Homo sapiens: one gene and its partners. The protein of the gene in region 2 interacts with the protein of the main gene of each other region in a biochemical or structural test. Each region holds a gene or a part of one and is shown on either strand. Other genes may lie near its edges.

The links.
Region 1: the proteins of HCN2 (region 2) and CARD11 interact in a test that uses a peptide from one of them, tested with the Homo sapiens proteins (one large-scale study listed by IntAct).
Region 3: the proteins of HCN2 (region 2) and NHERF2 interact in a test that uses a peptide from one of them, tested with the Homo sapiens proteins (one large-scale study listed by IntAct).
Region 4: the proteins of HCN2 (region 2) and RADIL interact in a test that uses a peptide from one of them, tested with the Homo sapiens proteins (one large-scale study listed by IntAct).
Region 5: the proteins of HCN2 (region 2) and TJP2 interact in a test that uses a peptide from one of them, tested with the Homo sapiens proteins (one large-scale study listed by IntAct).
Region 6: the proteins of HCN2 (region 2) and GRIP1 interact in a test that uses a peptide from one of them, tested with the Homo sapiens proteins (one large-scale study listed by IntAct).
Region 7: the proteins of HCN2 (region 2) and PATJ interact in a test that uses a peptide from one of them, tested with the Homo sapiens proteins (one large-scale study listed by IntAct).

Annotation. Positions count from the first base shown.
Region 1 is NC_000007.14:2,911,368-2,914,867, reverse strand, and holds part of CARD11 (caspase recruitment domain-containing protein 11), read left to right. Parts: intron 1-1,401; coding exon 1,402-1,581; intron 1,582-2,571; coding exon 2,572-2,696; intron 2,697-3,500. UniProt on the Homo sapiens protein: Adapter protein that plays a key role in adaptive immune response by transducing the activation of NF-kappa-B downstream of T-cell receptor (TCR) and B-cell receptor (BCR) engagement.
Region 2 is NC_000019.10:588,640-592,680, forward strand, and holds the start of HCN2 (potassium/sodium hyperpolarization-activated cyclic nucleotide-gated channel 2), read left to right. Parts: upstream 1-1,241; 5' UTR 1,242-1,306; coding exon 1,307-1,938; intron 1,939-4,041. UniProt on the Homo sapiens protein: Hyperpolarization-activated ion channel that is permeable to sodium and potassium ions. Displays lower selectivity for K(+) over Na(+) ions. Contributes to the native pacemaker currents in heart (If) and in neurons (Ih).
Region 3 is NC_000016.10:2,033,402-2,036,901, forward strand, and holds part of NHERF2 (Na(+)/H(+) exchange regulatory cofactor NHE-RF2), read left to right. Parts: coding exon of another isoform or gene 1-31; intron 32-187; exon of another isoform or gene 188-2,283; coding exon of another isoform or gene 2,284-2,292; intron 2,293-2,922; coding exon 2,923-3,102; intron 3,103-3,326; coding exon 3,327-3,480; intron 3,481-3,500.
Region 4 is NC_000007.14:4,831,717-4,835,216, forward strand, and holds part of RADIL (ras-associating and dilute domain-containing protein), read right to left. Parts: coding exon 2,891-3,500; intron 463-2,890; coding exon 425-462; intron 1-424. UniProt on the Homo sapiens protein: Downstream effector of Rap required for cell adhesion and migration of neural crest precursors during development.
Region 5 is NC_000009.12:69,233,277-69,236,776, reverse strand, and holds part of TJP2 (tight junction protein 2), read right to left. Parts: intron 2,339-3,500; coding exon 2,230-2,338; intron 750-2,229; coding exon 539-749; intron 1-538. UniProt on the Homo sapiens protein: Plays a role in tight junctions and adherens junctions. Acts as a positive regulator of RANKL-induced osteoclast differentiation, potentially via mediating downstream transcriptional activity.
Region 6 is NC_000012.12:66,389,077-66,392,576, reverse strand, and holds part of GRIP1 (glutamate receptor-interacting protein 1), read left to right. Parts: intron 1-74; coding exon 75-269; intron 270-3,500. UniProt on the Homo sapiens protein: May play a role as a localized scaffold for the assembly of a multiprotein signaling complex and as mediator of the trafficking of its binding partners at specific subcellular location in neurons.
Region 7 is NC_000001.11:62,119,980-62,123,479, forward strand, and holds part of PATJ (inaD-like protein), read left to right. Parts: intron 1-1,201; coding exon 1,202-1,316; intron 1,317-3,041; coding exon 3,042-3,079; intron 3,080-3,500.

The DNA of each region.
Region 1 (3,500 bases), on a different chromosome or scaffold from region 2:
ACTAAAAATACAAAAAGTTAGCCGGGCGCGGTGGCGGGCGCCTGTAGTCCCAGCTACACTGGAGGCTGAGGCGGAAGAATGGCGTGAACCTGGGAGGTGGAGCTTGCAGTGAGCCGAGATCCCGCCACTGCACTCCAGCCTGGGTGACAGAGCGAGACTCCGTCTCAGAAAAAAAAATAAAATAAAATAAATAAATAAATATATATATATATAACTATAAAATATATAAAAACATTAAAATAAAAACATAAAGCATTAAAAATAAATCTTAAAATATGTAAATAGCTAGGCATGGTGTCACGTGCCTATGGTCCCAGCCACTTGGGAGGCTGAGGTGGGAGGATCACTTGAGCAGGAGTTTGAGGCTGCAGTGAACCAAGATAACATCACTGCAGTCACTCTGGCCTGGGCCATACAGCAAGACTCCTAGCTCTAAAAATAAAAATAAAAGACAAAAAGAAATTAAAACGGTGAGGGAGCCTGGCCTTGGCTGTGAGGACCATGCTGCCTCGGGGTGACATCCCGCCAAGCTCACCCAATAACGACGCTCTCGTGTGGTTGCTTCGCTCCCGGGTACCCGTGTTAATTGGGGCTGTTTGCTGTGAAGTGTTCGTTTTATTGATTTCTCTACCCACTGAGTGCCACTTGCCATTTATCAACCCGGCGAGGGGCCTCCCGGTCCACCGTCCCCCACCCCGCTGGCCCTGGCTGGCCCTGCTCAGGGAAAGGGAAGCCACACAGCCCTGGCTGGATCTCAAAGGAGGCCTTGGGGCGGCTTCCCGGGCTGGCCCTTTGGACGTTGGAGTGGCCAGGCCAGGGTACAAGAAAAGGCACAAGGGACAAGGGACAGGCTGCCCGTTTCTGGGAGCTGTTTCCTCGGGCTGCCTGGGGGTGGCTTCATCAGAACCCCGGGCTTCTGTGTGGCTCTGCCACTCCAGCCACAGAGGGACTGAGAAAGCAGAACTGAGGCCAAGTCGTCCCTCCCAGTGCTCCTGGGAGACACCCAAGGCCTTGGCCGCTGGTCCTGGTGTCTCGTGGGTGCCTGCCGGCACTTGCTTTCCTTGCCCTCGCCCTCCCCTCCGCTGGGCTGTACCCAGTCCCTACCCTTCCTCCAAGAAGCCCTCCTTGATCGTCTGACAAGGCAAACTTTCCCTCCAGAGCTCAGCCAAGGTTCCTGCATTTGTCACACACTCTGCCTGCCCCCCACCACACCTCCCCTCCCTGGCACACAAGCCCCAAGCAGTGCCAGCCCGAGGTGACCTCAGACACTGGATGCCCGGGGCAGCAGCCAGGCCTTCACACTGACGGTGGCTTCCAGGACCCAGCCCAGGGGCCCCGTCCTCCGTGGAAGGTCTTCGGAGCCCCAGGGGTCTGACCGCCACCCTCTCCTGCCCCTGCCAGAGCTGGACCCTGAGAGCGAGCTGGGCAAGAACCTCAGCCTCATCCCCTACAGCCTGGTACGCGCCTTCTACTGCGAGCGCCGCCGGCCCGTGCTCTTCACACCCACCGTGCTGGCCAAGACGCTGGTGCAGAGGCTGCTCAACTCGGGAGGTGCCATGGAGTTCACCATCTGCAAGTCAGGTGAGCGGCGAGCCACGGCCACCTGGGGAGCCCCGCGGGAGCCATGAACCAGGACGACTTCCCCTCTTCTCTTCCCTCCTCCCCTCTTCTCTTCCCTCCTCCCCTCTTCTCTTCCCTCTTTCCTCCTCTTCCCTCTTTCCTTTCCTTCCTCCTCCCTTCTCCCTCTTCTCTTCTCCCTCCTCCAACTTCTCACTCCTCCCCTCCCCCTCCTCACTTCCCTCCTCCCCTTTCCTCCCCTCCTTTTCTTCTTCCTCATCCTCCCCTCCCTCCTCCCTCTTCTTCCCTCCTCCTCCTCCCCATCACCCCTCCTCCCCCTGGATAGGTGGATGGATGGATGGAAGGATGGCTGAATGGATGATGGGTGACTGGGTGGGTGGACAGATTGATAGATAAATGGGTGGGTGGATGGATGGATGGAAGGATGGGTGGGTGGATGGGTGAGTGGGTGGATGGATTGGTGGATGGATGGATGGATGGATGGATGGATGGATGGATGGATGGATAGGTGGGTGGATGGATGGATGAGTGGATGGATGGATGGATGGATGGATGGATGGATGGATGGATAAGGGGATGGGTGGATGGGTGGATAGGTAGGTGGACAGATGGGTGGGTGGGTGAGGGGTCGGTAGATGGGTGGGTGGATGGATGGGTAGGTGGGTGGGTGGGTGGAACAGGAGATTTATTTAGACTGGTGATCAGCCTTGCACCACGGTGCCTGAGCTGCTTTGTCCAGTGAAAGGTATTGCTGAGGTGCCAAGCACCTGCTCTATGGGCTGCCATGGGGAGTATGGAGAAGGTTAACCTTAGCCCTGCCCTCAAGGAGCTTCACAGTCTAGTCGAGGGGAGACGAGATTCATTTAAACATGGCTGGAAGGGGATCGGACATCGAGTTCTGTAGAGCCCAGAAGGTGGCAGGCAGGGCCTGAGTGGGATGGTCAACCCAAGGCCACCTCGTGCTGCCCTCAGGACTGGCCCCTCTCTCTGCAGATATCGTCACAAGAGATGAGTTCCTCAGAAGGCAGAAGACGGAGACCATCATCTACTCCCGAGAGAAGAACCCCAACGCGTTCGAATGCATCGCCCCTGCCAACATTGAAGCTGTGGCCGCCAAGGTGAGGCGGGGACTGGGAGGTTGGATGGGGCCAGGACCCTCCGTGATGATCCTCATGAGGCCACCTGGGCCAGGGACAAGGGTGGGATGAAGAGTTGTTTTCACCTCCCCGTGGCCAGACCTCTCCTTTTCCCCTTGTCCCAGCAGCTGCCCCGTGTTAACTCCCTCTCTGCACCCTTGTTCCCTGGGCTCTGAAGTGAGTTTTTATTTTGGAGCTTTCTATTTGTGTTGGCTTCCTGGAGCTGGTGTGTGTTCGCATTATTTAGGAGTGTGTGTGTCTGGTTGTGATAACAAGGGCCAGAGATAGAGAACGAGCTCATCAGGGCGAGAGACAGGATGAACATGAAGGTGACAGGTATTGCATTCACCAAACGAGGGGAAAACGGGGCATCACAAGGGTTATTGGCAACGATGCAAAAAGGTTGTCTGTGTGCAATGTGGAGTCTTTGGAGCCAGACAATGTGACCTAAGCGTTGAGCTCTTCCTCGTCCCAGCACTGGATGAAGAAAAGGCTCTCTGTCCGCGTCACTGGAGGGCTCCCCCAGCTGCCGGGGGCTGGCTCCGTGGTGGACGCTGACCTTGGGGATGGCAAGAGCAGATGGTGGTGTTTTTGTTTTTTTTAAGTCTGGGCCACAGCAGTTTAGGAAATTCTGATAGCTGGCGTGGATAGAAAGTGAGCAGACAGGGTTGGAGCTGAGATTGTTTTTAGCTGAAAAGAAGAAGCCTTCCAGCAGATCTGTGCTGTAGAAATGTGGGCCATGGTCCTATTGGTGGGGAATGGGGAGCAGTGGCCCCGCAGGAGGCC
Region 2 (4,041 bases):
GTCAGCCGGGCACATGCTGGCCCTCCCTCAAGTACCACTGAGTGCCTCCTGGGTGTAGGAAGAGGGCCATCTCTGCCCCGGTGGCCTCGAGGTGCAGATGGGTGGGGGGCACCCGGCACACGGGACATCGTGGCTGAGAGGACGTCAGGCCAGGTGCCAGGAGGGTCCCAGGAGGGCCTCCTGCCTCCAGGTGGGGATGTTCAGCCTCCACTTCTTCGAGTGTGACTGTCTGTCTCCTCTCTCTCACTTGCCAGCTTCCTCACCTGCCCCCTCCCGGCTGTCTGGTGGGCTGGGTGGCTAGGGACAGAGGCCTCATGTCACCTGGCACCAAGCAGCACCCACGCCCAGCCGGCTTCGGCCCAGAAGCAGAGCCTTGGGAAGCACCTGTCTCAGAGCTGGGGACTGGAGGCACTGGGGGCACAGCTGCACCCGGAGTCCGAGGGGTCGGGGAAAGGAGGCAACCCCGGGGCAGGGGGCTCTGGTACCCGTGCGAAGGCGCTAGTGGGCTTTGGGTCTCCCTGTGACCCCAATCTAAAGCCCACCAGACCTAGAGGAGACCCCCGCCGCACGGCTCCCCAGGGCACTGTTTGAGGGGTGGGTGGGAACCCCACACCCTCGGGTGGCTTTTCCAGTTTTCCTTGTCTGGCTGGGCTTGGCCTCAGTTTCCTCAAATGCAGACCAGGGAGAGGAGTGCCTGAGTCTCCCAGAACGGCGCCCAAGCCGGCCTGCCCCTCCCCACGCACTCAAGGGTCTCTGTCCAGGGCCCACAGGCGACCCAGCAAGGGCTCCTGTGACCTTTAGAAACACCCTTTCGTCGTGGAAGTCTTCAAACCTCACAGAAAGCAAGGAGGCGCTGGCCGTGGCGGCCTCTCCCGTCTCCCAGGCCCGCGTCCACCCTCCCCGCGCCGGTGCCCTCCGGACAGAGGTGGAAGCCGCGGCGCAGGAGAGGCGGCTCCGGCCGGGCAGCGGGGCCCGGTGACCTTGGGCGCGTCCTTACACGTCGCGGGCCTCAGTTTCCCCTCCTGGGGAGAGGCCCGCGCGGGGCTCCGAGGCCTCGGGCCGCGTGACCTTGGGGCGCCCCCGACCCCGCGGCCCGAGTTTCCCGGCGCCGAGCGGAGGCGGCGCGCGGGGAGGGGGCGCAGCCGAGGCGGGTCTCCCGCCCCCGCCCCTCCCCCGCCCCTCCCCCGCCGCGAGGCTCCGCCCCCCGCGGCTCCGCCCCGCCCCGCCCCCGCCTCCCCCCTCCCTCGGGCTCCGGCCGGCGGCGGCGGCGGCGGCTCCGCTCCGCACTGCCCGGCGCCGCCTCGCCATGGACGCGCGCGGGGGCGGCGGGCGGCCCGGGGAGAGCCCGGGCGCGACCCCCGCGCCGGGGCCGCCGCCGCCGCCGCCGCCCGCGCCCCCCCAACAGCAGCCGCCGCCGCCGCCGCCGCCCGCGCCCCCCCCGGGCCCCGGGCCCGCGCCCCCCCAGCACCCGCCCCGGGCCGAGGCGTTGCCCCCGGAGGCGGCGGATGAGGGCGGCCCGCGGGGCCGGCTCCGCAGCCGCGACAGCTCGTGCGGCCGCCCCGGCACCCCGGGCGCGGCGAGCACGGCCAAGGGCAGCCCGAACGGCGAGTGCGGGCGCGGCGAGCCGCAGTGCAGCCCCGCGGGGCCCGAGGGCCCGGCGCGGGGGCCCAAGGTGTCGTTCTCGTGCCGCGGGGCGGCCTCGGGGCCCGCGCCGGGGCCGGGGCCGGCGGAGGAGGCGGGCAGCGAGGAGGCGGGCCCGGCGGGGGAGCCGCGCGGCAGCCAGGCCAGCTTCATGCAGCGCCAGTTCGGCGCGCTCCTGCAGCCGGGCGTCAACAAGTTCTCGCTGCGGATGTTCGGCAGCCAGAAGGCCGTGGAGCGCGAGCAGGAGCGCGTCAAGTCGGCGGGGGCCTGGATCATCCACCCGTACAGCGACTTCAGGTACCGCCTCCGGGAGGGCCGGTCGGCGCGAGGGGGCCCGGGGAGCCGGGCGCGCGGGGAGCCGTCCTTGGAGCGCCTGGGGAGGGCGGGGCGGCGCGCCGGGCCGGTGACCTCGGGGCTCCTCGGTGACCTCGGGCGTGTCCGGGACCCGCCCCGGAGTGACCCCGGCGCGCGAGGCTCCGCCTCTGGGGGGGCTCCCCGGGTGACCGCGGAGCGCCCCCCTCCCACGCACCCCGACATCCTCCGCCCTGCGGCGCGGCGGGTGGGGTGGGCCGCAGGGCCAGGGTCTGAGCGCAGAGGGGCAGAGAGGACGAATAGAGGGGAACGTGGGCCCCAGAGAGGCGGCGGAGCGGGAGGGAGGAGGAACGAAGGGCGCCCGGGAAGGACGCGCCCCAGGGAGGCCGGGGGAGAGGGGGTTAAGCGGCTCCCACGGCGTCCACCCGCGCCCCGCCTGCGAGGAGGCGCGCCCGGGGCCGCGGGCCTGGAAAGCGTGCGGGTCCCCAGGCTGTGTCCCCGGGAGCCGCTCCACCCGAGCCGCGGGCGGTGCGCGCATGCGGCGGTGGGTGTGTAGACGCCGCTGTGGATCCAGCCGGCTAATGCGTGGAAGGCTCGGAGCAGGGCCGGCGCGGGGCCACCGCCACTGATGTTTGCGGTCGTGGTTCCTGGGCTGTGCGTGCTGTGGCCGGAGAGCGAGACCGGCGCGTGTCCCCGTGGGCTGTGTGTGAACAGGGGCCCGTGACCGCGGCGGGGTTCCCGGGGCGCGAGCCTGTGGCCGGAGAGGTGTGTCTCCAGGAGTGTGTTTGCGTGGTGGTCGCGGGCGTGTGCGCCTCCGGTGGGTTTATTTTGGTGGGACGTGTGGTTTGTGTGTGTTGGGACCAGGTGGCGGGCGTGCGCGTGTACGCCCGGGGCCGGTGTGCACCGGTGGGCAGTAGTGTGAGCCGCAGGCAGGTCTCACACACGCGACCATGGAGGGATGCGTGTGTGTTTGTGTATCCACGAGTGGGGTGTGAGGTGGGGTGTGGAGGGTGCAGGTGGAGGGTGTAGGTGGGGCCCGCCGGGCTAGCGAGGCCGGGCGCGCGGGACGGGCGCGGTTTCAGCACCACGGACAGCGCGCCGGACCTGGGAAGCCTGCGGTTTTCCCGCCTGTCTCTCCTCCTCCAGGCCTGGGCGCCCCAGGACAGCCCCCACGGACCCTGGACCCCCGGAACTGGGCAGGGAGGCTGTGGGGTTCTCTCTTCCCCTGGATTCTCTGCACCCCTAGTGCTTGACTGGAGAAACTGAGGCCTGGGGCACATGCGTCCTGGACAGAGCCTGGAGGAAGGCCCTGGAATCCTCCTCCCACCCCAGGCCTTCCTGAGAGGTGAATACAGCTTTGACCAGAAGCCTGGATTTCGAGACAGGCCAGGGGTGGGAGGAGCCCCGAAATCCCCAGAGGGGCTGTGTCCGGCCCCTCCCACCCTGCCTCTGTGCCCCACCGGGAGAGCTTGGTCAGCATCTGGGCTCTGGCCTGCGAAATGTGGACAGTGAGCGGGAAGGACTGGACTTCCAGGGCTGCTGGTCGGCCTGGCCCCACTTCCAGTCGGGCAGTGGCACCCCCTGACCGGAGAGGGACGCGGTGGAGAGGGAGCTGTAGAACGTGCCCACTCCCCTCCGTCCCCTCCAGCATGACCTTCGACAGAGATGGGTGCACCGCAGCGTGGGGGCTGGCAGGTGGAGGCCCACACCAGCCACTCCCTCCCCTGGGCAGCTCCAGCGACCCCCTGGCTGCAGAGGGGCGGTCGGTGGCCTGGGGGGCAGGTGGGCAGATGGCTGATCCCGGGGCTTGGGGGGAAGGCCGGTGGTAGGAGTGAAGCCCTCTCATCCTTCCACCCTCCTTGGGCGTGGTCGCCTGGAGGCCTGGGCAGGCTGTGGCCCCGCTCTGTGCTCTGAGGCATAGAGGGCTCAGAGGCCCCTGTGTGGACCAAGTGCAGCCCCACCCCGGCAGATGAGTGTTGAAGTGGAACTGAGCAGGCAGGGAATGGGGTTAGCGGGGCCTGTCTTCGGGACTAGGGGAGTCACGGCAGTCAGATTTTAAAAAAGGATTTCGATGTTGCCAAGCTGGGT
Region 3 (3,500 bases), on a different chromosome or scaffold from region 2:
TCCACGGAGCCCACCCCAGAGGCTGGTACAGGTCAGGTGGGGTGGGAGGAAGGGAGGGCTAGGAGGAACCGGCAGCCGCTCAGCCTCCCGGGGTGGAAGGAGGGGACTCCGGGACCTTGATGTAAGCAGGCTGGTCGCTGAGCAACAATGAAGGCCTTTCTCTGCCAGGGCTGGTGCGTCACCATCTGGGGGGGTGCCCAGGGTACCCCCATGCCAGCCTCTTTGTCCGGACACAGGCATGGCTGGGGGACCAGGGATGGTCCAGCTCTGTGCTGGCCGCCGGCAGGGAGGGAGCCTGGAGCCCGTGGGAGCCCGAGGGCCTGGCGGGAGGCGGCAGGAAGTGTGTGCTGAGCCAGGGCAGGGAGGAGGAATGTGAGCTATGAACGCCGCCCGAGCTCCTCGGCTCTCTGGGCCCCCCTTCCCCACGAGCCCATGTGCTGCCAGCAGCCCACCCTGGCCCCTCCATTGCAGCCCCTCCACCTGAGGTTTTAGTGCTGTGCCTGGCGCCACTGGGACCCTGCTGACAATGAAGGGGTTTAGGTTTGATAGGCAGAACTTCTTGCCTTGTAGAGTGAAAGACGGCTGCTTCTGGACAGAGGCAGAGGGGTGGCCAGAATGACCCTGAGAACACTGAGGGGTCCTTGGCCTGGCCTCAGGGCCCCAGACACCCACCAGATCCTGCTTCCTGTCTGGTGCCCTGAGAAACCCTGCCCCGCAGGCCGCTGTGCAGGCGTGGGAAGGGCTGCCGGGCCAGCACTGTGGGGCTGGCCGCATGTGTGGGCTGCTGTGCGTGTTTGCAGGTGTGTGTGGACGTCTTGTGTCTGTGGCTGTGTGATGTGTCTTTGCGGACTGGGCCCATATCACGCTCCCACCTCCTCCACTGAATTGGGCTCCTGTCCCCACGCCTTCCCTGCGTCCCAGGCCAGCCTGGGGGCCGTGCTCCACCTCCCCTCCCGAACTGGACTCCTGTCCCCACGCCTTCCCTCCGTCCCAGGCCAGCCTGGGGGCCGTGCTCCACCTCCCCTCCCGAACTGGACTCCTGTCCCCACGCCTTCCCTCCGTCCCAGGCCAGCCTGGGGGCCGTGCTCCACCTCCCCTCCCGAACTGGACTCCTGTCCCCACGCCTTCCCTCCGTCCCAGGCCAGCCTGGGGGCCGTGCTCCACCTCCCCTCCCGAACTGGGCTCCTGTCCCCACGCCTTCCCTCCGTCCCAGGCCAGCCTGGGGGCCGTGCTCCACCTCCCCTCCCGAACTGGACTCCTGTCCCCACGCCTTCCCTCCGTCCCAGGCCAGCCTGGGGGCCGTGCTCCACCTCCCCTCCCGAACTGGGCTCCTGTCCCCACGCCTTCCCTCCGTCCCAGGCCAGCCTGGGGGCTGTGCTCCACTTCCCCTCCCGAACTGGACTCCTGTCCCCACGCCTTCCCTGCGTCCCAGGCCAGCCTGGGGGCCGTGCTGTGACTGCATCCCTGAGGGGCACTTTGGTGGGCAGGTGTCAGGGTCAGCCTTGAAGCCCCACGCCTGTGCCACCAGGTGTGTCTGGGGGAGGAGTGAGTCTATGTGGTGGGGCCCTGGAGATTTTGGGGGTCTTGCACCCTCTAATTCAGCCCATGTGGCCCAGCTGAGCCCCTGTGGGGCCAGGGAGCCACAGGCTTGTCCCTGGAGTTTCTGGTGTGACGGGCTGGGTGGTGGCCATGCAGAGAGGGTTCAGAGGGTGGGCAGGAGGCTTCAGATGAGGCATCTGGCAGGCTGGACAGGAGAAGGGTGTTCCAGACCAAGGGCAGGTCCTGAGCCCAGGGGACAGAGCACTAGCTGTGTGGAGAAGGACCCCCTTGCTCCCTTGGCGGGGCGGTCCCCCCCGCTGACATGGCCGTTTCTGGTCCATTGGGGTTTGGAGCGAGCTTGAAGGTGGGTGGCTGGAGGGGTTGGGGGTGTCTGAGGCCTGGAGACCTGCCCTCCTGAGGTCTGAGCGCCCCCTTGCCATGCCGCCCCAGCCCTGGCCTGGCCTGGCCTGTGGTCCCTCAGGGACACACAGGGAGGTAGGAGGTGAGGGAAGGGCCCTGGCAGCCCCCAGCCCGCCTGCACAGTCTCCCCTGCGCACGCCCTCAAGCTTGGCGCTCCCTGGAAACCTGAGCTGCCTCCTGCCTGCTCCGGCCACCGCCATGTTTAACTGAGCACGGGCAGCCGCTGGCCACCGCCGCCGCACCCTGGCCCACCCCCTGGCTGGGAGGTGGTCATTGGGCCTGGCCTTGCCTGCATGGTCCCCTGGCCCAGAGCCCTACCGCAGGATGCCAGAGGTAACATGGGGCAGGGCCTGGGATGGTAGCGGGGGGTCCTTCCGGGCACCAGGAGGCCCTCTGTGCCCTGTCCACACTAAGCTCCTGCCCCAGCCCCTGCTTGCTGGGCCCACGGGGGTGGGGCGGCTCATTTTCCTGGAATGTGAAAGCAAACAGAGCCGCCACCGCAGCCAGCCCCACGGAGGCCTCTGGAGAGAAAACAAAACTGCTGGCCTAGGAGCGCCTGCCCCACGCTCTGGAGGAGAGCCCGGGGCAGGGGGACGCACAGGCAGAGCCCTCAGGGACAACCGCCCCAGGAGGCCAACGGCGACAGTTCATCCCACCTGGTGCTTCCTCCCACCCTGCCTGTGCGCCACGCTGGCCTCGAGCCAAAGGAATTCTCCCAGCAACCCGGGAAGGCGGCTGGGCCCGTCGGGGAGGCTTCTGGGTTTGAAAACAGGCTTTGCCCAAGTTCCCACAGCTAAAGCTCTGTCACAGGCAGCCTGGGTGCCCGGAGTGTTTGCCACTGAGACCTGGGCCTGCCCGTGGGGGGCACGGTACCGAGTTTGGGCAGTGGCGGCACCACCGGGGAGTGGCCTCTGGAGGCGGGAGGCTGGAGCAAGAGACTGACCCTGTCCGTTGGGCCTGCAGGATGTCAGTGGGCCCCTGAGGGAGCTGCGCCCTCGGCTCTGCCACCTGCGAAAGGGACCTCAGGGCTATGGGTTCAACCTGCATAGTGACAAGTCCCGGCCCGGCCAGTACATCCGCTCTGTGGACCCGGGCTCACCTGCCGCCCGCTCTGGCCTCCGCGCCCAGGACCGGCTCATTGAGGTACCGGCCCACCAGGGCTGCGGGGTGCCGAGTGCCCCGCACCTGTCCACACTGGGGCCCTGGGTCCTTGCAGGGAGGAGGGAGACGCTGGGAACCTGAGCTGGTGCGCCTCCTGCTGCCTCGGTGGGCGGTGGCTGTGATGAATATTTGATGCCACACCTGGCCACGCGGCGTTGGGGGCTGTCTGGGCCCATGGCGGGGCTGATACATGCTGGTGGCGGCAGGTGAACGGGCAGAATGTGGAGGGACTGCGCCATGCTGAGGTGGTGGCCAGCATCAAGGCACGGGAGGACGAGGCCCGGCTGCTGGTCGTGGACCCCGAGACAGATGAACACTTCAAGCGGCTTCGGGTCACACCCACCGAGGAGCACGTGGAAGGTGGGCCACGGCCCAGGGCA
Region 4 (3,500 bases), on a different chromosome or scaffold from region 2:
TAAAAGTACAAAAAAAAAAAAATTAGCCAGGCATGGTGGTGCACACCTGCAGTCCCAGCTACTCGGGAAGCTGAGGCAAGAGAATCCCTTGAACCTGGGAGGTGTAGGTTGCTGTGAGCAGAGATTGCACCACTGCACTCCAGCCTGGCGATAGAGCAAACAAAACAAAACAAAACAAAAACAAACAAAAAAAGAAGACCTCACCCATCCAGTCTTAAGGGTGCCCTGAAGCAATTTCCCAAAACTCAGAGCTTCCCAGGGTGATGACTAAAGAAGCAAAAAAGGCCGCTGCTTGGATGGAAGGACAAAGCCCAGAGCTGACCCCAAGGCGTGGGGAGACCCCTCGGGACTTGGCTCCCCCGGGAAGTGTGAGCCCCCAGGACCTGCTGCCCAGAGGCGGGCACAATAACCGGGTCATACTCACAGTTGCGCCTGCTTCTCTGCTAGTTCTTTGGTTTTCTCCTACAATTACAAAGCGGGAGAAAAAGCAAGTGAGCAAAACAGGCTAACACAGGGACGCGTTCAAATACACGATACCATCGACAGGAAAACAAGCCATGCTGCCCCAGGCATCCTGTGTGACGCTGACTATTTATTCAAGCTGTGCTGGAAAGGACATTTTCCATGTGACTTCAACATCTTCCCATTCCATTACCGACTATGACCTACAAGTTTGCTACAATAGAGTATCTCACAACTCTCTAGCTTACATAACAACCGGCTATTTAAAAAATAGTAGAGGCTGGGCAAGGTGGCTCACACCTGGAATCCCAGCACTTTGGGAGGCTGAGGCAGGCAGATCACTTAAGGTCAGGAATTCGAGACCAGCCTGGACAACATGGTGAAACCCCATCTCTACTAAAAATACAAAAATTAGCCGGGTGTGGTGGCGCATGCCTATAATCCCAGCTATTTGGGAGGCTGAGGCAGGAGAATCCCTTGAACCTGGGAGGCAGAGGTTGCAGTGAGACGAGATCACGCCACCGCACTACAGCCTGGGTGACAGAGCGAGACTCCGTCTCAGCAAAAAAAAAAAAAAAAAAAAAAGAATTATTCTTGCCTTAGTAGTAAGTTATTATCCGGCTGAATGTAACCGTGATGGCTGAGTGCGCGTAGACTAAGCGTGTATATTTGGTAAGGAATGAGGACGGGGCAGCGGCGACACAGTTGCACATTCTCAGGAAACAAACGCGCAAATGATATTCGCATGGGATCTGGACAGCACCCAGCGGAGGCTTCGGATTCCCACAGTGGGTGCAGGGGGAAGAGGTGGACTCAGGCTCGGTCTCATGTCTATCAGCTCAATCTCTGGACCAGGCAATTCACCTCTGGGAGCCTCTGTTTCAGAGCCTGTAGCATAGGGGCAGGGTGAGCCCTGGTGTGCTGCAGGGAGTGGGCCAGCCACACAGCGAGCCCCAGGTGGCTGGGACACAGGCTGGGACCCGGGTCCCTCAGCAAGTGACTTACGGCCCCCTGGCTTCAGTTTCCCTGGCTGTGACATGGGGTGTGGCATCTACATCGTCAGGGTGGTTGTGATAAAGAAATTAAACAGCGTTTGGTTTGCAAGTAAGTGCCTGGCGCAGAGGAGACTCGGGAAATGACAATGATCGTGCGAAAACCCATGACTTCTGGCCAGCAGGTAACTCTCGGTCACAGTGGCCACGATGTGGACACACACTACAGGGACATCACCTGGCCCTGTGTCCATGACTGCACGGAGGGGACACGGGCACGCTGCAGTGGCACTCCCATCAAATCCCAAGCCGGGAACCCGAGGGGAAGAGGCACGGACACCCAGATTACAACACCCACGGTGCACAGAGACGGCTCCCACTGACATCTGGACAGGGAAGCCTGAGCTGGCTTTTACTTTTTAAAAGTCTCAGACATTTAAAATGTGGATTTCGATATGAGAAAGTGATAAGGTTTCTACACAGTCAAGTGGTTCCCCCTTCCCCTGTCTGCCGGGGATAAGCGGGGCCCAGACTAGCGAGGATCTGAGGGTCTCTGAACGAACTTGAACAACTACGAGTTGTCCTTCGGGTCCCTGGGAGCCAAGTCACTGTGGGGTGGGGCCCAGCGGGGGGCCATGACTGTGTGATGCCTGTTCCAGCACTCATGGGCCCAGGGCGGTCCTGCTCACTGGCGGCCACACTGGATTCCTGGGGACATTGGCAATGCCTGCAGCCATGGGTGTATTGCGTGTGTGTGTGTGGCGGGGCGGCAGAGGGTGACCGGCATCTAGGGGTGGAGGCCGGGGATGCTGCTGAATCCTCTGCAATGCACAGGCCAGCCTCACAGCAAGGAGCTCTCCTGCCACAGTGTCCACAGGGCCGGGGATGAGAGAGGCTGGCCTGGAGGAAAGTTCGTCAACGCACAAAAGGTGACGGGCCCTGCACCTCCAAACTCGGATCAGGGATGGCTCCAGCGGGTATGTGCTCAACCGGCCCCTGGCAGCAAGCACAGGGCGCCGGCACACACAGGGGCTTCTGGGGCTCTTGGGCAGGGGCCTGTGAGAGCTATCAATGTCACCTCGGCCTCGTGGTGCCCAGGCTCAGGGGCAGCTCACTCCTGGCACGTGACAGTGCTGGGCCCAGCTGGACCCCAGGGAGGGTACAAGCCCAGAGCTCAGGAGGTGACCTAGGACCCCACGCAAACCCCACCCTCAGGGGCAAAGGGCTGCAGCTGACACCTTGGGTTCTGGGGCTGCTTCTGGTGGCCTGTGGGGCTGGGGGGCAGCGACAGGCAGGGAAAGGCCGCCCTGCGCTCAGCAGCACAGCACCGTGGGGGTCAGATAGAGGCGCTCCCGCCTCCCAGCCGGGGCCAGCTCCGGGCCCCCTCTTCCCCCAGACCGGCACAGGACCCAGACCGCCCACCCCAGCACACTGACCCAGACAGTCTCGCGGATCAGCCTGGCTATCTTGAGCAGGAGCTGCCCGAATGTGCCCGGCTGGAAGTGGGTGGCCGAGTGCTGGATGCAGAGGCACAGGAGGAAGGCGGGGGTCAGCTTGTGGTCGTCGCCCCCCGGCTCGATCAACGTCATGATCCTCTGCAGCAGCGTGTCCTCCAGGTGGGGCTCAAACTCCAGGAGCAGCTGCTGGCGCCGGGGCAGGGCGGCCTGAGTAGGGGAGGCGGCTCCCCGGGCCCCGAGCGCGGCCCCGCACAGCCGGCAGCTCTGCGGCACAGCCCGGAGGCGCGCCAAGGCCCGGGCGGGCAGGGGCTGGGCCTGCGCGGGGTCCTTGAATAGCAGCAGGTAGTAGAGCCCCAGGGAGAGCAGGTCCCCGTGGTGCAGCACCACGGTCCTGTGCCCCACCTCGGAGAAGTTGACGGAGATGTGCGCCCCGGGGATGGGCTCCAGGACCAGCCTCCCCGCGGCCTGGCCGCTGTCCGGGAGCGGTTGCCGGCGGATGGTGCAGTGTAGAGGCAGGATGTCGGGGGCTGAGAGGCTGATGCTGGGCTTGCTGGAGGGGGTCCGCTGGCCCACCGTGTGCCGGTCCCGG
Region 5 (3,500 bases), on a different chromosome or scaffold from region 2:
GAAAAAGGCTGGGTCTCTGTGAAATCTCCCAGAAGTGGCTCAGCAATAAACATGTGAAATTTGGCCCATTCTGATATGCAGGTACACAGTACACACACCTGGAACTCCTGCTCAAATACAGGCCTCTTTTCTAGGTTCCTGCACTGTCAGCCAAACACCAAGTGTTCACTGGGGTGCATAAACCTCTCCAAGGATGGAGACTGGGCACCGGACAAGGGTACCTTGTCTCTAAGAGGTGTGCTGGTGTGCTACGGCCATTCAGTATATCTCTTGTATACGGTACAAGGCAGTGGATGCTCCTTAGGAAGTTGTTCAAACAGCCACATTCAGCAACCAACCACATGATGCTAAATTTACTCACAATAAACTGGCTGGTGGCTATTTACAGTTCAGGCCACTCTCCATAAACAAGAAATAGATGGTGACAAGTAATGAACTCATCATGTGGGGTTTCCTTTTACGGGGGAAGGGGGGCGGTCTCTAGTTTTCTGCAGGGGGAAGGATTAAAAGGGGTATGTGAGAATGCGATCTCTGTTACCTGCTCTTGTTGGGGATTAAGCCTTTCTCCAACTCGTTCCCAATCCTCACAGCCAGCCAGTTGCCCAGCTTGCCGTCATACAGTGTGTCTACCACTCGGAAGACCTCCCCTCTGGTGAAGGCCAGGCTCTGTGGAGTTTCCTTCTCACATTCAAAGTGGCTTCTTATAAAAAACGAATCCCCTCTGCCACAAGCCAGGATGTCTCTATACACTGAAAGACAAAAGCATCGTTTGTTGCATTCAGCTTAGTACAAGTTACAGTACTAGACACTCAACACAGCTTCTCCTATCTCTGATCTCCCCTTTACCTTCCTTCCATTCAGTGCACAAGTCCTATGGGAGTCACAGCTCCAACAGGAACAAGGACAAATAACCAGCTTCACGGCTTGCTGCAATGGTTAATTTTATTTCAACTTGACTGGGCCATGAAATAACCAGGTATTTGGTCAGACTTTATTCTATGCCTTTCTCTGAGGGTGTTTTTGAATGACAGTCACGTATAAATGGGTAGACTGAGCAAAGAAGATCGCCCTCCCCAATGCGAGTGGGCCTCATCCAATCAGTTGAGGGCCTGAAGAGAATGACAATCAGACCCCTTCTCAATTAAGAGGAAACTAGGCTGGGCGTGGTGGCTCATGCCTATAATCCCAGCACTTTGGGAGGCCAAGGTGGGTGGATCACAAGGTCAGGAGATCGAGACCATCCTGGCTAACACAGTGAAACCCCGTCTCTACTAAAAATACAAAAAATTAGCCGGGCGTGGTGGTGGGCGCCTGTAGTCCCAGCTACTCGGGAGGCTGAGGCAGGAGAATGGGGTGAACCTGGGAGGCAGAGCTTGCAGTGAGCCAAGATTGCTCCACTGCACTCCAGCCTCAGCGACAAAGCCAGACTCCGTCTCAAAAAAATAATAATAAATAAATAAATAAATAAATAAATAAATAAAAAATTAGGAGGAAACTACTCTTCCTGCCTGATGGCCTTCAAAAGGCGACATCAGCTCTTTTCCCTGACTTGGTACTGGAACTACACCATTGGCTCTCCTGGTTCTCAGGCCTTCAGACTGAGACTAGAACTAAATCACTGGCTCTCCTGAGTCTCTATCTTGCCCATTTTCACTGCAGATCTTGGCACTTGCCAGTCTCCATAATTATGTGAGCCAATTCTTTATAATAAATCTCTTTCTTTCCTATTGATTCCAATATCTCCTATCATTCTGTTTCTCTGGAGAACATTAACACAGTTGCCAATCAAGCTCTGAAGCAGACAAGGAGGACACTCTCAACACCCACTTAACAGATGGGAACAAGGCCTGGAAAGGTGAAACAACTTGTCAGACTGGACAGGGGTAACAGGCGCACCAGCCAGCAGCCATGGCCTTTGCACATGTCGTATGTAAACTCACTAATAACTCCAGGCAGAACATAAGGCTGCATCACTGTTCAGGAAGGCAGTTTTATTCCAAATTGACACAACTAGTAAAATTATTTCAGTGCATGCATAGAAAACATTTTTATGGAAAGTTAAACGGCACTCACATTTTCTTCACACACCTAGGGCCCAAGGACTAGGTGTTGAGATCCATCTCAATTTTTTAATACCCAGATTTGCCTATTCTGGTACCAAGACACCTCTCTCATCCTTCCCACTCCCCACCCCCACCCCAACTAAACTAAATGACCAAATTTGCTCACCATCGGCTCGGCTCTGAGCTAAAATGGTCACCATTTCACCTTTAGGGATTTCTAACAGGTAGAGAACGGCATCCTCCCGCACTAATCCTCTGAAATCCTGTGTGTTCACCTATTAGGAAGGAAAAACAGAAAAAGAAAAAAAAAAAAAAGAAAGAAAGAAAGAAAGAAAGAAAGAAAAAACAGAGAAGTTTATAGTAAGATGCCACTGACCCTTTTGTTTGTTTTCATCAGGGCCTGTCCAGAGCAAAGCCAAGATGCAAATGAGTCCTTAATGTCACTATTCAAGTCCTCGCGCCCAGCACCTTGCTATGGGCCTGCACACTATACCTTCCTGCCTCCCCATACTGCCAACCGCACCTTAGAGGTTAAGCCATTGAAGCAAGGATCTGTCACCAGATCACAATAGAATTTCTTGTGGTTGTTTCTATCCATCTCCCTTCTGTGAGTCTCTCACAGAGGTGGCCAAGAAGGTAATACACAAGTATGAAGCATGGGGAGTGTTGGGGTCTGTGACAACTGAGCATGCTGGCCCAGCATTTACACTAATTTTAAACTGGTTCAAATAAAAGTGTGCAAATAAAGACTCTGACCAATTCTACCCTTCTCCTATAGCTTCTATCACCTAAAAGTGTTTAACATGTGTTTATAAAATTGAAAGGTATGTATCAAATTAAAGAGCATCAGCCTTACAGTTACAAAGCAAGTAAAATTGAAATGTAGCACAAAGAACAAGACATTTTGAAATCATAGTGCTATGTGGTTTTTTTTTTTGAGATGTAGTCTCCCTCTGTCGCCCAGGCTGGAGTGCAATGGCGCGATCTTGGCTCACTGCAACCTCCGCCTCCTGGGTTCAAGCAATTCTTTTGCCTCAGCCTCCCTGAGTAGCTGCGACTACAGGCATGTGCCACCACACCCAGCTAATTTTTTTTGTATTTTCAGTAGAGACAAGGTTTCACCATGTTGGCCAGGCTGGTCTCGAACTCTTGACCTCAGGTGATCCGCCCACCTAGGCCTCCCAAAGTGCTGGGATTACATGCGTGAGCCACCACGCCTGGCCCATAGTTCTGTATCTTTCAGCCTATTTTAAAACAGAATTATAAATAAGTAAAATGCAAAAACCATATTAAAGTACCTGATATGTTAATAATATTTTGTAGAAATAAAGATATAAAATTCCTATGAAATATTTTCTTCAGTCATTGACAATTACAGAATCCTTTTAATCACAAGAGTAATGCTTTATTAAAGAAGAAACTTATCCTTAGTTGGGT
Region 6 (3,500 bases), on a different chromosome or scaffold from region 2:
CTAGCCACGGAGTATCTTGGTATATTTTTATTTAAATTTACTCTGATACTTAAACTCCTTTCCTGTCTATAAAGCCCAGTCAGCATCGAGCCCCAAGAAGTTCCCTATTTCTAGCCATTTGAGTGACCTGGGGGATGTGGAGGAGGACTCCTCACCAGCACAGAAGCCAGGCAAGCTCTCCGACATGTACCCCTCCACGGTGCCCAGTGTGGACAGTGCTGTGGATTCATGGGATGGGTCTGCAATAGACACCAGCTATGGAACTCAAGGTATGTCTTTACTTTGTCCCCCAGAGGACTTGTCATTGTTGAAGCCCATGCTTCTCCAAGATTCATCCTCTGCTCCATGAGGAGAATATCTTTCTTTAACTTGTGTCTGCTTTGGTGCAGCCATAATCATATTGAACACATTGAATACTTACACTCTGCTGGCCATGCATTTTCTTCTAGTGCTTATAAGGCATGAACCTTTACCAAACACTAACAGGCCTCCATTAGGTCTACTGATGGCCAAGTATCCCATCCAGGGCTTGTCCTTCAAGCTTAGATTAATGTGAGGCAAACCATACAATAAAGTGGCTCGTTCAATACAGGCCCCATTGCCTTATTTTTCAGCAAGCTTTCCACAAAGATGGATTGGGGAGTTTGGAAGAGGTGCATAAGAGATTAGCCAATGATTTGTGACTCTATTTATTCCTGCACACTCCTGACTTTTTTTTTTCTTTTAGAGACTGGGTCTCACTCTGTCACCCCAGCTAGAATACCCTGGCACCATCATAGTTCATTATAGTCTCAAACTCCTGGACTCAAGGGATCTTGCTGCCTCAGTCTCCTCAGTAGCTGAGACTATGTGCACACACCACCACACCCAGCTGATTTTTAAATTTTTGTAGATACGGGGTCTTGTCATGTTCTCCAGGCTGGTATCAAACTTCTGGCCTCCAGCAATCCTCCCATCTTGGCCTCCCAAAGTGCTAGGATAATAGGCATGAGCCACCATGCCCTTTCCCTGAATGTTTATAATTAGAGCACTATAATCACAATATAGGAAAGTATAGAGTAGATTTTTCTTCATAGGTGTCATCGTCATGTGAAGAAATACTATCTACATTAAAAAGCCTCACTCATGGAATATAAACACATAAAAGGTGTCAGACTGAATACAGAGCATAAACTAATAGCTTCTTTTAAAAAATATTTTCTTCCCAGTGATCCGTAGCATCAACAAGAGAAGTATGTCAAAACTTCTTGGTATTTCTCCTCATCTGAGCCTTACCTTCTCTCATGTTCTATGTAAATTCCAGCCTCTGAATCCCTTGTTTGCTCTGGGTTTCAGTCAGTCAAATAATAAAACACATAAACAGTTTAGAGAACACATTGGTGTGAGGGCTGCTTTGTCACTGAGTTAACTGTACTTTTTAGGAGTGTCTGTATCCAGTTTGCTCTCTCCTGGTTTTCCTAGTTTCCTTCTCTCAGCCTGCCTATGTTGTGTCACTCTCTGTTAAGTCCTCTGGTGAACAAAAAACAAAAATGGAAGGGAGAAAAAACTGGAAAAAAAAATGAAAGGAGATGATATTTCAAAGTTGTCAAGTTGTTACTTTCATTAGAGATGATACTGGAGTTAGGTGGGGAAAATACTTTGAACACCTAAGTAGAATTGGGGCTTTATCTGGCAATTAATTTTTCCAAGTCATAATACCTTGTGACAAGTTCACCTATGCCACCAAATAACAGACCTTCTGATTGCCTGAGAATTGATGGGCCACCAGAAGACACTGAGTAAAGGACAGAAGTCACATTCTATCAGAGTAGACTCAGGTTTATTTATCAATTTATTGTGTATTGGTTATTTATTTGTGTATTTTTTGTGTATTGCTTATTAATGTAGAGATATTTTTGTTACCAGAGATTTTTGTGAGGGTGCTATTGATATTAATTAGTTCTTCCCTGTAAGGTGATCTGTAAGACCTTAGCTACTCCATCCCTTGAAACCACAGACACAGGACCATGAGAAGCAAACTGAATATAGGACCTGCCCCTCACTAGTAAAAGATGAAAAACCATTTACTATTTGTGAAGCATTTTGAAATTTTGAATCATAGTCATAATATTACATTTTGCATTTATAATTTAGACATTTTTATGAGGTTGAAGGGAACTGAGGGATAAGTAGAGACAATGGCAATCAGGATAGAATCGAAGTACTCCAAGGTAATGAAAAAATAGTAATAACCCTTTATATATATAGAACACTCTAGAGTTTACAAAGCACTTTCACATAACTAATCCCCATTAATTCTTGTGACGAACATGGGAGCTGAAGGCAGGATTTCAGGTTTGGAAAGGGTTTAGGAGTCAGCTAGTCTGATGTCCAGTGCAGCCCTTGGTGCCAGGTCCTGCCTCACTGCACGCCAAGACACGCTGCATGGACTTGAATGCCCAAGGTGACAGGTTGTTCCTTGTGCTGAGGCAGCCCCCCATCTCCACGTAGCTCTGATGACTCTAAAGCTCTCACTTGTATTGAGCTGCAGTATGCCTAATAGTCCCGGCTATACCCTCAAGGTCATTCTGCACTAGACTAAAGCCTCTTCTCCTGACAGCCCCTTAGATACTCGAAGACAGCTATTGGGTCTCTGTTGAGGCTTTCCTTCTCCAAGCAAAATAGCCCCAGTTCCTTTAACTGTGTCTTCTATAATTTACTGACGAGTATCTGTATCGTCCTGTGGACCTCCCTTACGAATGTGCTTCAGTTTACCTGTGTACCCGTTAAAGTGTAACATTCAGAAAGGAAAATCACACAACAGCCCGACAGCCCGGAGCAAAGCAAGCTGGTCACTGGCATCATTGAAGACAGGAGAACTGATCAATGACACCTACCTCAACATAAGAATTTTAGTGGTCATGGCACATCTGTCACTCATTTTGCGCTTACAGTTTACCGAGATCTCAAAGTCTTGTGAATGTGTTTTTTTTTCTTTACCCGTGATATTCAGTTAAACTGCATCTCTCCAGATTGTGCTTGTGAGGTTGACTTTTTAAAAGCAAGGCACAGCTGGGTGCAGTGGCTCAGGCCTATATTCCCAGCACTTTGGGAGGCTGAGGTGGGCAAATCACCTGAGGTCAGGAGTTCAAGACCAGCCTGAGCAACGTGGCGAAACCCCATCTCTACTAAAAATACAAAAACTAGCCAGGCGTGGTGGCACACACCTGTAATCCCAGCTACTCGGGAGGCTGAGGCAGGAGAATCGCTTGAACCAGGAGGCGGAGATTGCAGTGAGCCAAGATCATGCCACTGCACTCCAGCCTGGGCAATAGAACAAGACTACGTCTCAAAAAAAATTAAAACAAAAATAAAAGCAAGGCATAGAACCACACTTTTATTTTTCCTATTCAATATTATGTTGTGAGATACAGCTTATCTCTCCAACCTGTCCCTCCAGCCTCTCAGCAGGCTCTCTGCCTTGTTCCAGGAAGCCCCTGCACATTCTCTCTGTTCCCTTT
Region 7 (3,500 bases), on a different chromosome or scaffold from region 2:
CACCTTTCTGAAATTTTTTAAAGGCAAAAGTTATAATATACTGTACTTCCTCAGTTCTGATTAGTTATCTATTATAGTACCATTTACTTAAATCATATCCTTTAAGGAAAAGTATAAAAACACTCCTTTAAATGTATATAGCCACTATGAAGTATACTGAGATCTACAACTTACTTTGAAATGAATTTTTTAAAAAAAGATGAGTGATGAATAGATAAATGGCTATGTGATAAAGGAAATATAGCAAAATACTCATTGTGAAATCTAGGTGCTATTTATATGGATGTCTATTGTATAATTCTTTCAGCTTTTCTATATATTTGAAGGTTTTCATATTTTAGGAATTAAAATATTAAACAACTTTCATCATAGAGTTAAGAAAATGGACCAAATTATAATTTATGAACTGATAACAGTGATCTTAGGCTTAGCTTAAAATTTTGATGCAGAATAATTTGGTAGAAAAAAATATTCATTATTTGCAATGTTTTCGTCTACATAAGAAAGGCCCTTCACTATGTATACAGTTTTTGTTGAACAGCCACTAGCCTTAAAAGACTACACAGTATTAACCTCACATATTCATTTAAATGAATAAAGGGACAGGTAATGGAGATCTAGCAGATTGGACTAAATTATTACTGATTCTAGGAAAATCTTTGAGAAAAAAATGTTATATATCCCTAAAACAAGTCTTTTTCCCTTCAGATTTGGTGCTTTTTTCCCCACAATTGAGGGTTCTATTTTGGCAGGTTTCTGCTAATCAAGGTCTTATTATACTTGTTTTAGCAAAATACATAATACATTTTGGGTAATAAAGTTGACTGTAACCCCAAATGAAACATAGTGCCCATTAGCTGACTATATATACATAAACACTATGTGGCAACCTAGGAAAATGGTTTTGATTTTATGTGGAGCAAGAACAGCTGAAATGATTCTATGGTCTCCACCTTGGTGATTGAAACCATATACAAAAGCACACATAATGGAGAAAGCAATGGAGGAAATGTCTAAATGGGATTGGGTTGAGGTAGTAAGAGAATAGTGTGGGTGATTTTTGTTTTCTTTCCTGGCCTCCTCACGATTTTCTGTTAGATGGTTATGGTGACATCAGTAATTGGCACACTAATGGATAAGTATGCATTTAGGGGGTCAAGTCAGTGTCTGCACACAGGTGACCCCTGGGTCTTTCTTTCAGGGTAGTCAGCAGAGTGCACACAGCAGCTGTCATCCCTCCTTCGCTCCTGTCATCACTGGCCTGCAAAACCTGGTTGGCACAAAAAGAGTTTCAGATCCTTCCCAGAAAAATTCAGGTATTACACGGACACACCCAGAGCAAAACTATCCTGTTACCCAAATTAAAAAAAAAAAATGTGTTTTTTAAAAACCAGTCTTCTTTAATATAAATGTTTTTTAATTTTTTGAGCTTGGCCACATAAGCTGAGCTTTCTGAAAGGCATGTTCTGAAGGTAGGAAAGCCATAGAGATTCCTTCAGTGGTGGCCAGGCATGGTGGCTCACACCTGTAATCCCAGCACTTTGGGACGGCTGTGGCGGGCGGATCACCTGAGGTCAGGAGATCGAGACCATCCTGGCTAACCCCGTGAAACCCCGTCTCTATTAAAATACAAAAAAAAATTAGCCGGGCGTGGTGGCATACGCCTGTAGTCCCAGCTACTCAGGAGGCTGAGGCAGGAGAATTGCTTGAAACTGGCGGGGGTGGTGGAGGTTGCAGTGAGCCAAGATCGTGCCACTGCACTCCAGCCTGGGTGACAGAGCAAGACTCCGTCTCCAGAAAAAAAAAAAGAAATTCCTTCAGTGGCACAACACAAAGCACCTGAAAAACAGAAAAGCAGAAAGCTGGAGTGCATGGTAAAATAAAATTACTTACAAAGAGAAAATTAATAAATTACAGGTCACTGGAGAAAGGTCAGAAGTGTGTATACCTTCTATGGGAAAATTGGGCCAGTTAAAAGAAAAAAAAAAGTGTGTATATCCTTGGGGGCAGGGTGGGACAAGGGGTCCTTTTAAGTCTTTTGTTGAATGGAGGGTTATCTTTGATTAAGGTAGAAAAAAATGTACAATGAAACACAAATGACTCAGCCGGGCCCGGTGGCTCATGCCTGTAATCTTAGCACTTTGGGAGGCCAAGGCAGGCGGATCACCTGAGGTCAGGAGTTTGAGAGCAGCCTGGCCAACATGGAGAAACCTCGCCTGTACTAAAAATACAAAAATTAGCCGGGCATGGTGGCACATGCCTATAATCCCAGCTACTTGGGAGGCTGAGGCAGGAGAATCGCTTGAACCCAAGAGGCAGAGATGGCAGTGAGCTAAGATCGGACCACTGCACTCCAGCCTGGGCGACAGAGTGAGACTCCATCTAAAAAAAAAAAAAAAAAAAAAACCACACACACACACAAAAATGAGTCATCCTCCAAGCATTTACTCACCATGTTCCAGGCAGCTGCTGCTATATAGCCCATCCACTTTTGTCAGACCAAATGGTTATGGCCACATTGATCTCAAACAGAGAGCACTTCTTTAAAATAGAGGACACAGCAGGCCGGGCACGGTGGCTCACGCCTGTAATCCCAACACTTTGGGAGGCCGAGGCAGGTGGATCACTTGAGGTCGAGAGTTTGAGACCAGCCTGGCCAACATGGTGAAACCCCGTCTCTACTAAAAATACAAAAATTAGCCGGGCGTGGTGGCAGGCACCTGTAATCCCAGCTATTTGGAGGCAGAGGCAGAAGAATTGCTTGAATCTGGGAGGCAGAGGTTGCAGTGAGCTGAGATGGTGCCACTGCACTCCAGCCTGGGTGACAAAGCGAGACTCTGTGTCAAAAAAAAAAAAAAGAGGACATGGCCCCTGGTGACTTGGCTACCAGCTTGGATGCTGAGGAAGGGTACAATACCTGCTTGCTTTAGTGTCTTCTCTTGAAAGACCTAGAAAATGAAACCATTTTTCATGGGGCAATATTATATGCTAAATATATTATTTTTTAATATTAAAAAGTTAATTGTGTTGCTTCTTTATAGGCACAGATATGGAACCAAGGACTGTTGAGATAAACAGGGTAAGTCAGTCATTTTGCTGTATGTATTTTTCTGGTTTGTGTTGGATTTGCACTAAATGTACATTTTCCCCAATACAGTTTATTGGATTGTGAGTGTGCTCTTTCAAGTTACTGAGATAAAAATATGGTCTAAATAACATCAATAAATAGACTTAGAAAAGTACAGTAGAGCACAGAGATGACCTCTATGAATTTTTTGGCAAATCTCATCCACTATATTCTGTGCTATGTGTAAGTTTTATTTTTATTTATTTATTTTTTCAATCTTAGTCTTTTAACCTGTACATGTAAAGTTTTATAAAACAAAAATGGTATCATGTGGCACATACTAAATAAGTATTTTTTGAGAGCATATAGTATGATTTTTATCGATTTCATAGTACTCCATCTTATGAATGTGCTATAAGTTTCTTTTTTTTTT